Linked DNA regions of Homo sapiens: region 2 is linked to region 1. The links come from fine-mapping of genetic effects on gene expression. A gene starts in region 1. The other region holds a variant in brackets. All regions are shown on one strand. Distances are between the middles of the regions. Region 1 holds the start of NR1D2 (nuclear receptor subfamily 1 group D member 2). Region 2 overlaps NR1D2 (nuclear receptor subfamily 1 group D member 2).

What was found. PIP is the estimated chance that this variant, and not a neighbour inherited with it, causes the effect. A credible set is the group of variants that fine-mapping cannot tell apart.
Region 2: its variant is the best candidate, but not a certain one, in a credible set for the expression of NR1D2 in monocytes after interferon gamma (Fairfax 2014, PIP 0.78).

Annotation. Positions count from the first base shown.
Region 1 is chr3:23,942,861-23,948,241 of GRCh38, forward strand. It overlaps NR1D2 (nuclear receptor subfamily 1 group D member 2), which reads left to right and starts at 2,426. Exons shown (of 8, transcript NM_005126.5): 1 at 2,426-2,734. The coding sequence starts at 2,719. LOC124909354 (a long non-coding RNA gene) reads right to left here and starts at 2,320. Exons shown (of 2, transcript XR_007095845.1): 1 at 795-2,320; 2 at 1-220. It also overlaps a transcript of NKIRAS1 not described here. RefSeq lists silencers at 2,290-3,479, 2,976-3,517.
Region 2 is chr3:23,975,588-23,980,968 of GRCh38, forward strand. It overlaps NR1D2 (nuclear receptor subfamily 1 group D member 2), which reads left to right. Exons shown (of 8, transcript NM_005126.5): 8 at 1,636-5,030. The coding sequence ends at 1,832. Among named protein-coding and RNA genes, the nearest start is that of NR1D2, 33 kb to the left of the region's middle. The variant CA/C (reference allele first, on the strand shown) is at 2,898.

The sequences.
Region 1 (5,381 bases):
CATCAGCCTCTTGAGTAGCTGGGACTACAGTTGCACACCACCAAACCCGGCTAATTTTTGTATTTTTTGTAGAGATGGAGTTTCGCCATATCGCCCAGGCTAGTCTCCGATTCTCCAATACCTGGGCTCATTGATCCTTCCACATCAGTCTCCCAAAGTGCTGGGATTACAGGTGTGAGCCACTGCGCCCTGCCAGGGCTCACTCTTGACGTTGTAGGTTCTAGTTTTGACAAATGTGTAAAAACATATATTCACCATTATAGTATCATACAGAATACTTTCCCTGCCCTAAAAATCCTCTGTGCTCTATTCATCCCTCCTTCCCCTCTAGCCTTTAGTAACCACTGATCTTTCTACTGTCTCCAGTTTTGCCTTTTCTTCCTTTTTTTGAGACAGAGTTTTGCTCTTTTTGCCCAGGCTGGAGTGCAATGGCGCGATCTCGGCTCACCGCAACTTCCGCCTTCCGGGTTCAAGCGATTCTCCTGCCTCAGCCTCCCGAGTAGCTGGGATTACAGGCATGCGCCACCACCCCGGCTAATTTTGTATTTTTAGTAGAGATGGGGTTTCTCCATGTTGGTCAGGCTGGTCTTGAACTCCTGACCTCAGGTGATCCACCCGCCTTGGCCTCCCAAAGTGCTGGGATTACAGGCGTCAGCCCCCGCGCCCAGCCCAGTTTTGCCTTTTCTAGAATGTCGTATAGTTGGAATCATACAGTACACAGCCTTTTTAGAGTGGTATCCTCTTTTATGATTTCTTTTCTGCCTTCTAGACTGTTCATATTAACCTCATTTTACCTGTGTAGAAGTAGATGGTAGTTGATACATGAAAAAGCAAGCAAGCTACAAAGCGTGGCCTGGGGAACTCTTCCATCAGCATCACATGAGGGTGATAAATTCCAGAAGTAGGGAAGAATAGAGGGCTACCGTGATTAGGGAACTGTGTTTAGAAGGGTTTGGGTATCAAGACAGCCTTGGAAAGAGAAGCAGGACCCACATCTGTGCAGGGCGAAGCAGGTCAGGTTAAGTCGTTGAATTTTTTCAAAGTGTAACACGAAGCCATTGGAGGGTTTTCAGCAGAGTAATCAGATCTTATTTACATTTTAAAAATAATACTTTGACTGCTGGGGAGAAGTGACTGTAGGAGGACCCAAGAAGCACTCTCCTAGTTAGGGAACCAGAGCAGTAGCTGAGGCAAGAGATAATGGTTTGCTCTAGCAATACCAACGGTGAGAAACAGGGATTGAACATATTTTGAAGGTAGAATAGCTCAGACTTGCTAATGGATTGAATGGAGAATAAAAGGCTGTGAGAGTGTTAGGAGAGAAACATAATTTTGCTGGCTTCAGGAACTTGCAGATTTACCAAAACAGTAAATATTGATATGGTGAAGAAACCTGGGGGGTGGGGAAATAGGGTGTTGCACATGTAAATATGTCTTCCACGTGACATTTTCCCCACCTTCTATAGTGAAGAATTTCAGAGCAAACTGGAAAGAGTTTTACAAGCAACACCCATATCCCCATCGCCTAAGTTTAACATCTTACCATATCATCTATTCATGCCTCTATCAGCCCATCTTACTTCAGTAATGCGTTTAAATTGCGGGCATCAATGCACTTTCCTCAGAATTCACCTCAGCACGCATACAATTTATGTCTAGCTTTTTTCTTTTGATCTAAAATTTACATTCAAGGTGAAACGCCCAGATCTTGACTGCACATTAGCTGAGTTCGGACACACGCGTACACCCGTCTAAAATCTGAGATGCAAAAAAGCGGCATAATCAAACGGGCTGCTGGATGTAGGAATCTGGAGATTAGAAGAGAGGTCTTGGCTTGAAATATAAATCTGGGAATCACAAGAACATAGGTCTACTTAAGCTATGAGATTGGATAAAATCACCTAGAGGGTGCAGAGGGAAAGGGAAGGGTCTGTGCCCTCAGAGACCAGCGTTTGGAGGTCGGTCGGGTGGGAGCGGGGGGTGGGGGTGGGGGGCGCAAGGGTTGAGCAAGCCCGAACCAGCCGGCCCAGCCGGGGTCCTGAGAATCACCCTTGCTCGGCGCCAAGCCACCGCTTTGACCTAAGAGCCACCAGGTTGGGGGGCAGGGCGTGGAGAGGACTCCCGGCCAGAGGCGGGAAAGGCAGCCGGGAGGAGAGGAAAGAGGAGGAGGAGGGGAGGAATATGCGGCGGAGGGAAACGGAGAAGAGGTTTACGGCACGGAGGGGAAAAACGAAGGAAGAGGAGGGGCTCGGCAAGGAGAAGGAAGGGGAGAAGGGGGAAGCGCAGGAGAAAAGGGTAGCCGGGGAGCCGGGAAGCGGGCGGGAGGGAGGGGAGCGGCGGGGCGGAGGTCGCCGCAGCGGCCGGCCGAGGGCGGGCGGAGGGAGGGGGTGTGTGCGCGGGTCACATGGTCGCGGCTGCCCTCCCCGTCAGCCGCCCTCGCCGCCGCGGTGCGCTGGCTGCAGGAAGCCGCCGCGCCGCCGCTTTTGTTGTCAGGGACCCAGCGAGGAGCGCCGCTCGCCGGCCGCCGCCACCCTCTCTCGCTGCAGCCTGCTGTGCGCTGCACGGCCTGGGGCCCGGGAGCCCCGCCCGCTCTGCCCATGAGGGGGCCCCGCGACCACCGCTGCTTCCAGCCCGGGGCGGCGCGGCGCTGAGGCGGCGGCGGCGGCGCTGCCCCCTCTGCGGGAAGCGGGCGGCCCCGGCCGCCTCCGCGAGGGCACCATGGAGGTGAATGCAGGTAAGAACCGGACTGCGGCGGGTGGGGGATGGCCGGAGGGAGCGCTCAGAGCCCGCGGGGCACTTTGGGGGGCGGCGGCAGGGGGTGTCCCCATGGCCGGTGGGGCGGGGTGGGCTGCTGCGCGCCGCGTGTCCGCCTCTGGCTCGGTTCCCATCGCCCCCCGGGCCGCCCGGCGCCCGCCCTCTTGTCTCCCTGCAAAGCCGCAGCGCGGCCTGCCGGCGCCCGGCCCGGCCCCCCCCTCACATGGCCCGGCCGCGCGAGCCACGTGCGCGCTGTGTTTACGTTCGGCGGCGCGCGGGCGCCGGTTGGCTGGGCGGGCGCGTGACGCGGCATTACATAATGGGCGCTGAGGCGGCGGCGGCGGGCGGGGACACGTGAGGCCGCTCGGCTCCCTGACCCACATTCCCCGGGGCCGCAGGGACACGTGGGGGCGGGGGCGCGCGCGCGCGCGCTGGCTGGGAGCGCCGCAGCCTCCCGGGAGGCTCCGCCCCTTTGGAAGCCTCGGGGCAGTGACGTCGCCGCGATTCCCTCCTCCCCCGCGGGGTTGCACACTGCGGAGGAGGCCGCGCGTGCGCGCCCGCTGAGCCCCCGCGGCGGGGCGTCCCCGAAGCGGGCGCTGACACCGCAGTGCACCGGACGCCGCACGCTCTTTTCGCGAGGTGACCCCAAGGCGCGGACCCCGCGCAAACCAAACGAACCGGCGCCTGGGGAGGCTGGTAGCTGCATACCTTGCAGATTCCGAGGAGGAAGTGCAGGACGAGGGCGTGCTGCAGGCCGGAGGAGGCGCCTCGGGGAAGGCGTGGGGCTTTCCCGAAGGGATACGCTCGAAGGAGCTCTGAGGTGCTTCGATCCCGAGCGACTCCCCGCAGACTGGGTAGCACCGCCCCTGTTAGGATGCCGTCTGTTTACAAAAAAAACCGTTTGCTCTAGGACGCGACCTGTCTCATACACACACAGTCTTAAAAACTGCTTCCAGATCCCTTCGGGCTGGAGTTTTCCAGTAAACGGGTCACACCCGCAGCTGAGCGTGCAGCTCACGTATGGTCAGGATGACTCAGGTGATCATAGGTGACTCCAACACCATATGTAAGACTGGACATTCTTCATTTAAATTAAAAAAAAATTAACCTGTGGGTCGCTGACTTTTCCTGAATCTGATCAAGAGAATTTGGCTTTATAAATATTTTTCTTGTCACATTTTGTTACATTGCAACGGAACAACAGGGTGCCCTTCCCTCCTTTTGTCTGCCCCAAATGATGAGGTAGATCTGAAGTGAGTGAGGTTATGGAAACAGCCAGCTTTTGTTTTATTTTTTGAGTTGCAATGCGCCTCTAAGAATCTTGCCTCGATAACAAATGTATTGTGAACTTTTCACCAAAAGTAAAAATAAAGTCACTTTCTAATTTTATTTACGTATTTTTAGAATTTACTTATTTTTTTTAACCTGTTGTCTCACAAAAATCTGGATCTAATTGTGTTTTGATTACCTAATCGGCCTACTTAGCCTTTGAGGGTATTTTTAAAATTTTATGAGTTTATCATAGAATTAAACTTCTACATGTTAGAATTCAGAGGTGATCAGGGTGAACCTCTTCTAACCCACCCTTTAGCATGAATTCTAATAGCTTTAGTAACCTCATAAGGGCTGGCTCAATTAGGAAGTTTTTCTCTGGTTTGAGCCCTCTTCCAATACTTCGCTGATCTAAATCTTGCCTCGTGGAGCAAGGCACATTATAAAAATTCCTCCGGATGAATGTTGACCATCCCCTTCCCCCTTCAGTTCTTCCATTTACAGTTCTCATCTCTTTGTCCTTGCCCAGCATTGTTTTTTCTGATCACTCATCATCCTTGTTGCCGTTTGGGATGGAGCACCCAGAAGTGAACAGGCTCTTGTGGAAGTGGTTGGATGATTATCAAGTTCCAAGTTGCCCTCTTTGTCTTGAATCCTGTTGCAAATGAATTCCCTGGCAGGCTTAGTATTTTTGGCATGTTGCTTTGCTGACTCACAGTAACCTTGCAGTCAACTAGGACCTTTCACGTGAACTATTATGAAGTTAGATTTCATTCATTGTGCAGATAATTGCATGACTTGAAGTGTAGGAATTTACAATGACCATTCTTAAAATTTCTCTCGTTCATTTGGCCTTAAGTTCAAAGCTGTTACAAGCTGTTACCCACCATGTTTACAGTTTCTGCTATCTATCAGTAAGCAGGAGGTCTAATAAGAATTGCCTTAAACTGGCCGGGCACAGTGGCTCACGCCTGTAATCCCAGCACTTTGGGAGGCTGAGCCGGGCGGATCCCCTGAGGTAAGGAGTTCGAGACCAGCCTGGCCAACATGGTGAAACCCCGTCTCTACTAAAAGGACAAAAATTAGCCGGGCGTGGTGGTGGGCTCCTGTAATCCCAGCTACTTATGAGGCTGAGCAGCAGAATAGCTTGAACCTGGGAGGTGAAGATTGCAGTGAGCCGACATCGCGCTACTGCACTCCAGCCTGGGCGACAAGAGCGAGACTCCCATCTCAAAAAAAAAAAAAAGCCTTTTAACTTTCGAATTTTTGTAAACATTGACCAAGGTGGGGCCAGATTCAGCGCTGTGTGGCACACCTCTACCCTTCCCTCTAGTTTGGTTATCAGTTGACAAACA
Region 2 (5,381 bases), 33 kb after region 1:
GGTGAAACTAAAAATACGAAAATGAGCCAGGTGTGGTGGTGGGTGCCTGTAATCCCAGCTACTCAGGAGGCTGAGGCAGATAATTGCTTGAACTCGGGAGGCAGAGGTTGTAGTGAGCCGAGATCGCACCACTGCATTCCAGCCTGGGTGACAGAGTGAAACTCCATCTCAAAAAAAAAGATAAAACTTATTTTTATCATTCTTCTGCATTTAGAGTTAATCAAATTTTTCTTTTTTTGCCCTTTACTATTAAATTTTAGTCCTTGTTTTAAGTGCTTTCATGGCAAATGACCTTTTTCAGCTATCACTTATAATGGAAGACCTCCTCAATATCCTTGTAAAAAAACGAAAGGGCATGAATGGCCAGAAGTTTTGATTCCTTGTAGAAGTTAGAAATCTTTTTCTTGTTAATTACAACCTCCCATGTGGGGGACCATTGAATATTTTTGTATACTCCTGCCTCCTGTTGTAAAGGGAAAAAAATACTCTTGCTGATGAAAACATCTATGGGTGATCTACATAGGTTTGCCTGATTTTAAGATACTTTATTGCAGGCTTATGCCAAATGACTGGTTTATAAACATATTGTATGACAAATTTAATAAACACAATATGCTAAATGAAAGTGAATGTAGGGTTACATAGCAATAAAGTTGCATAGTGTATTAGTTACCTATTACTGCATAACAAATTGTCCCAAAATTCAGGGGCTTACAAATGCAAACATTTATTTAATCTCACAGTTTTTGAGGGTTAAGATATGATATGAGAGATAGGATATGATATGTGCCTCTGACTCAGGGTTTCTTAGGAGGTTATAGTTAAGCTGTGGACAGGGCTGTGGTCTCATATGAAGGCTTGAGTAGGGAAGGATCTGCTTTCAGTTGTATGTAGTTATCGGCAAGATTGAGTTCCTTGCAAGCTGTTGGACTGAGCACCTCAGTTGCTTGCTGACTGTTGGCTAGAGCCCACTCTTAGTTCCTTGCCATGTGGGCCTCTCCACAGGGTGGCTCACAGCATGGCAGCAGCTTTTCTCAGAGTAAGTGAGCAAGAGCGTACCTAAGATGGAGGCCACAGTTTCTTGTAAGCTAATCTCAGAACGGACATCCTATCAATTCTGCCATATTTTTTTTCATTAGAAGTTAGTAAGTCTAGGTCCACTTAGTAGGAGGAGGTTGCGCAAGGGTGCGAATACCAGGATGAAGGGATCATTGGAGGCCATTTTAGGGGCTGCCTACCACACATGGTGACATACAAATGGGAGTGTATTCCATATGTATTGAAAATATGTTTATATACTACATTATTTTATTTTGCTAATTAGAAGCAGTTGAAATCAGATGACATCTAATTTTAAAAAGTCAGAACCTCTATGTTCTTGTGAATAAAAATTCTTAACAGTAAAGAATTTTGATTGATCAAATGTTTTATGTGATATATATGCTTTATAATATAGTAACTAGCTAACGATTTGTTACTGAGATTTTGAGAAATTTGTCAACTTTTGCCTTTATTCAGATGTATAAAACCTTGCTTTCTATTCGTTAGTGACACTGATAAGCAAGAATTTTATTTATATTTAATGTTAATAATTTATCCTGTTTTTCCTATTTCCCTATTCCTGATCTCTCTTAGATCGATCTGGAATAGAAAACGTCAACTCTGTGGAGGCTTTGCAGGAAACTCTCATTCGTGCACTAAGGACCTTAATAATGAAAAACCATCCAAATGAGGCCTCTATTTTTACAAAACTGCTTCTAAAGTTGCCAGATCTTCGATCTTTAAACAACATGCACTCTGAGGAGCTCTTGGCCTTTAAAGTTCACCCTTAAGGCCTTTGTTTATTTAAACATGAACTGATGGTAACTGTACATTTTGTGCTAAAATGCATATTTATATGTGTATACCATATGTGGAGATAGAAAAGACCTTTAAGACAATAAAAGATTGTAGGCTATCTCTGTAATCATGCAATAGCTGTTCGGATTGAGAACTCTTCAGCCATGATTAGACGTTGACTGCATCTCCCTGATAGACCAATCAGCTGTGTCGCACTTAAACTGGAGAAGTTACACTGAAGTATAATCACACTGAATGTTAGACTTTTTCATCTGCCAAAACCAAAAACCATTTTGATCTCCCTGTGGTTATCAATATAACGCACAATCACAAGTGTATGAGGACTTAGAAATTAATCCTTTGTGGTAGGAGTTCTGTTGAATGATGGAAATCTTATTACTACCACAAGACTATTTGATCTGGTAATTGGAGACTTCGGGATTTAGGAGATCTCCATGTCTGTATTTACTCTACCACTGCTAAAGTGTGTGGTCCTGGGTAGTTTACTTGCTTGCGGAAAATGAGAATTGATGGTGTCCCCAATGCCCCACCTCACAGAGTTACTAAAAAATGTCTGTAAAGCATATTTACCTCTTGGGAGATAGGCACTATGTAAATAAGGTAAAATTTCTGTTATTACAATTATTCATAATAATATTCTTTTCTTATTTCTAAGCCTTTCTGGGAAATCATTTCAGTCCACACCAACCATATTATTCAGGGTTCCTGCCATATGTGTGGGGTATCCTACTGATACACACGTATTCAAAGTTTATGGGTACAACAAAGACATAGTACATGTACATAATATGTATGTGAATATAGTTAAATATATTTCTTCACAATATTTTAAACTGTGAAGAACTTTATCATACAGGAAACTTAAAACAAGAGGTGTCAAAAGACCCAAATTAGGTGCATTTTACTTGTTTATGATGGCATAACCATTGCTTTAAAATGTTTAGACAGTAGAATATTGAATTTATGCTCTATTTTTGTTTATTTAAGCAACACTTAATGTAAAAGTGCAACAGGCAATTGAATCCAAATTTCAACGA[CA/C]AAAAAAAAAAACATGTATTTTAGAGTTCATCTTTGGCAAAATCTTTGGTTCAGGGTACTAGTTGTTTAAAAGTTGATTCATATTCTTACCTTGTGCTGAGAAAGGTTGCATTGCTGCCCCTTATACACATGCTGCAGCTTGATGTTAAAGAATTTTTATTCTTTCTGAAGAACTAATTAATGTTTAAAGCAACTGTTTAATATGATGGCATGTGTGTGTGTGCGTGCGTGTGTATGTTCTGAGTCCACTTCTTTTTTCCTAAATAACACTACAGGGATTTTGTCATATTAGATTTAATTTATAATTTGAAAAATCATCTAGTGTGTGACCTACAGGCTTAGAAATGGTATAGTCAAAGACATTTTATCCACATTTCTAATAGTGGACTTGATTAAGTAGATAAGATCAGCATCTGTTTATGGTAGTAGGAGAAATAGCCAAAGTTGAGGATTTTATGTATGTTTTCCTGTTTACCTGGAAAATAGCAATTAATTGGATTTTTTGGTAAAGATTGCCTTCTGTATAATGTTTGGATTATATAAAATTGCAAAAATGATAACAGCCCGCTTTACTGTACTAAGCCTGTTACTTTCATGACGTGTGAGCAGAATGCCTTATTTTGTAATCTTGTTTAACTTGTTGCTACTGGGACTTGATTTACTGTGGCACTAGTTAAGTAAGTTAAAAAAAAGTTAAACCCTCTCATTATTAAAGAGGAAAGGCGATGGTGATGTCTGTAGTACAATATAAACCATAATTGTGATTTACCTTAAGTAGGTATAACTCTTATGGGATATACAGTATAGTTTTTGTGAATCTTTACATGATAGCATTATCTTTTTATAATTTTTTTTCCTAAGATAAACAAATGCATAGTTTTCTTCTATGGGTGATAGAAACAGCTTTTTGAAGTAATGAAAACCTCAAAAGATCATGTTGATTCTTAATTTTTGCCTTTTGCATAAGCCTCTTTATAACATGTATCTTTAAAACAATTAAGTCTTTAGGAATGTGTAACCAGAACTATGTTAGTATTGCTTATAAAACTTTAGTTAGGTTCAATATATACATATATACATCTCTATATAGGTATATAGATTTGCATTTTGTCTTGTAAAATTTTATTTGAATAAATTCTTCCTGTAGGTAATGGGAAACAAAATTAATAGTTCATATGTCACTCATAGCATTTCTATATTTGAAAGTAGCCCAATATAAAACTTTTGATTCTAAAATTAAACCAGCAGCCTATTACAAGCACATTCTTTGATTGAGTCATTGGTTATAAACTTACTAAATGCAGAGAAAGCAGCCAATTTAGGAAACTTCTGAGTTGGTGGGACACTGTTGATTAATAATGTACTGTATGAATTAAGTGATGCTTTAACTTTGATTTTACATTTTAAAGTTAAAATGTGGGCATTATGTCAGCAAACTTAAGGGCATTATGTCAGCAAGCTAAAACATTTTTTTTCCTGTGCTTTTAATGTATCTCTTTACATGATCTGAGAGAGGATTCAAGTTGATAGAAATAGCTGAGGGGAAAAGGGGGAACATCTTGGGATGAAGCTTGTCCTTATGGTGATGGTTTAATTACAGATTAAAAAATTAGAAGGAAATTTCAGTGGATTAAGTGTATAGCTTTCATATCTACATTTCAAGAAATTACCATTGTAACTTGATAAGAGATGATTTATTTTATGTAAACATCTTTGCAAAGCAAGGTGTAGCAGCTCAGCTAGATTTATTACTGTGCACGAAAGTAAATACCTATCTCAATTATTCTTTTTCTTTTCCAATATAAAGTTTGCTGAATGTACAAGAAGAGTTTATCACTTAGGATATAGAATTTTTTTAGGGGTTGGGGGAGGGGATCTGTTAGGAAACTGTTACCTATAAACAAAGATTGACTGGATTCGATCCAAAAGATAAAACTTGAAGCTATTCTGGAACTAACATGGAAAAATGAAATGGCTATTGTTTAAAAAAATGATAGAAATACATTGTTGATGGGATATGAGTTAAGTTTATTTTCTACAAACTGTAATTGATGAGGACATGGATAATATCTTCATGTTTCTGAGAAGTAATCTGTATGTGGGGGGAGGGGATAATAAATATTTCTAACCAACTGTGGTGTTTGGTGTCTAATCTACCTTGCCTTTTTTGTAAAACTAATAATTTAACTCACTACAAGTATCTTTCCCCTGAGCATAGCAGGATGTTTTATGTAAATCTCTGATTCAGCATGGGGAAATGTGTGTATATGTATATATGTGTGTGTGTGTATATACACACATATATATGTATATGTGTATATATGTATGTGTATATATATATATGTATATATACATGCACACACACACACAGGGCTTAAAAAAAGATTTTAGAGTTGAGATTCTGGCAAGGACTGTTGCTATTTTCTATAATGCCAACTGAGTAATGGTTCGTTGTGTCTAATAAGGTAGTCTTTCTAGGTAGG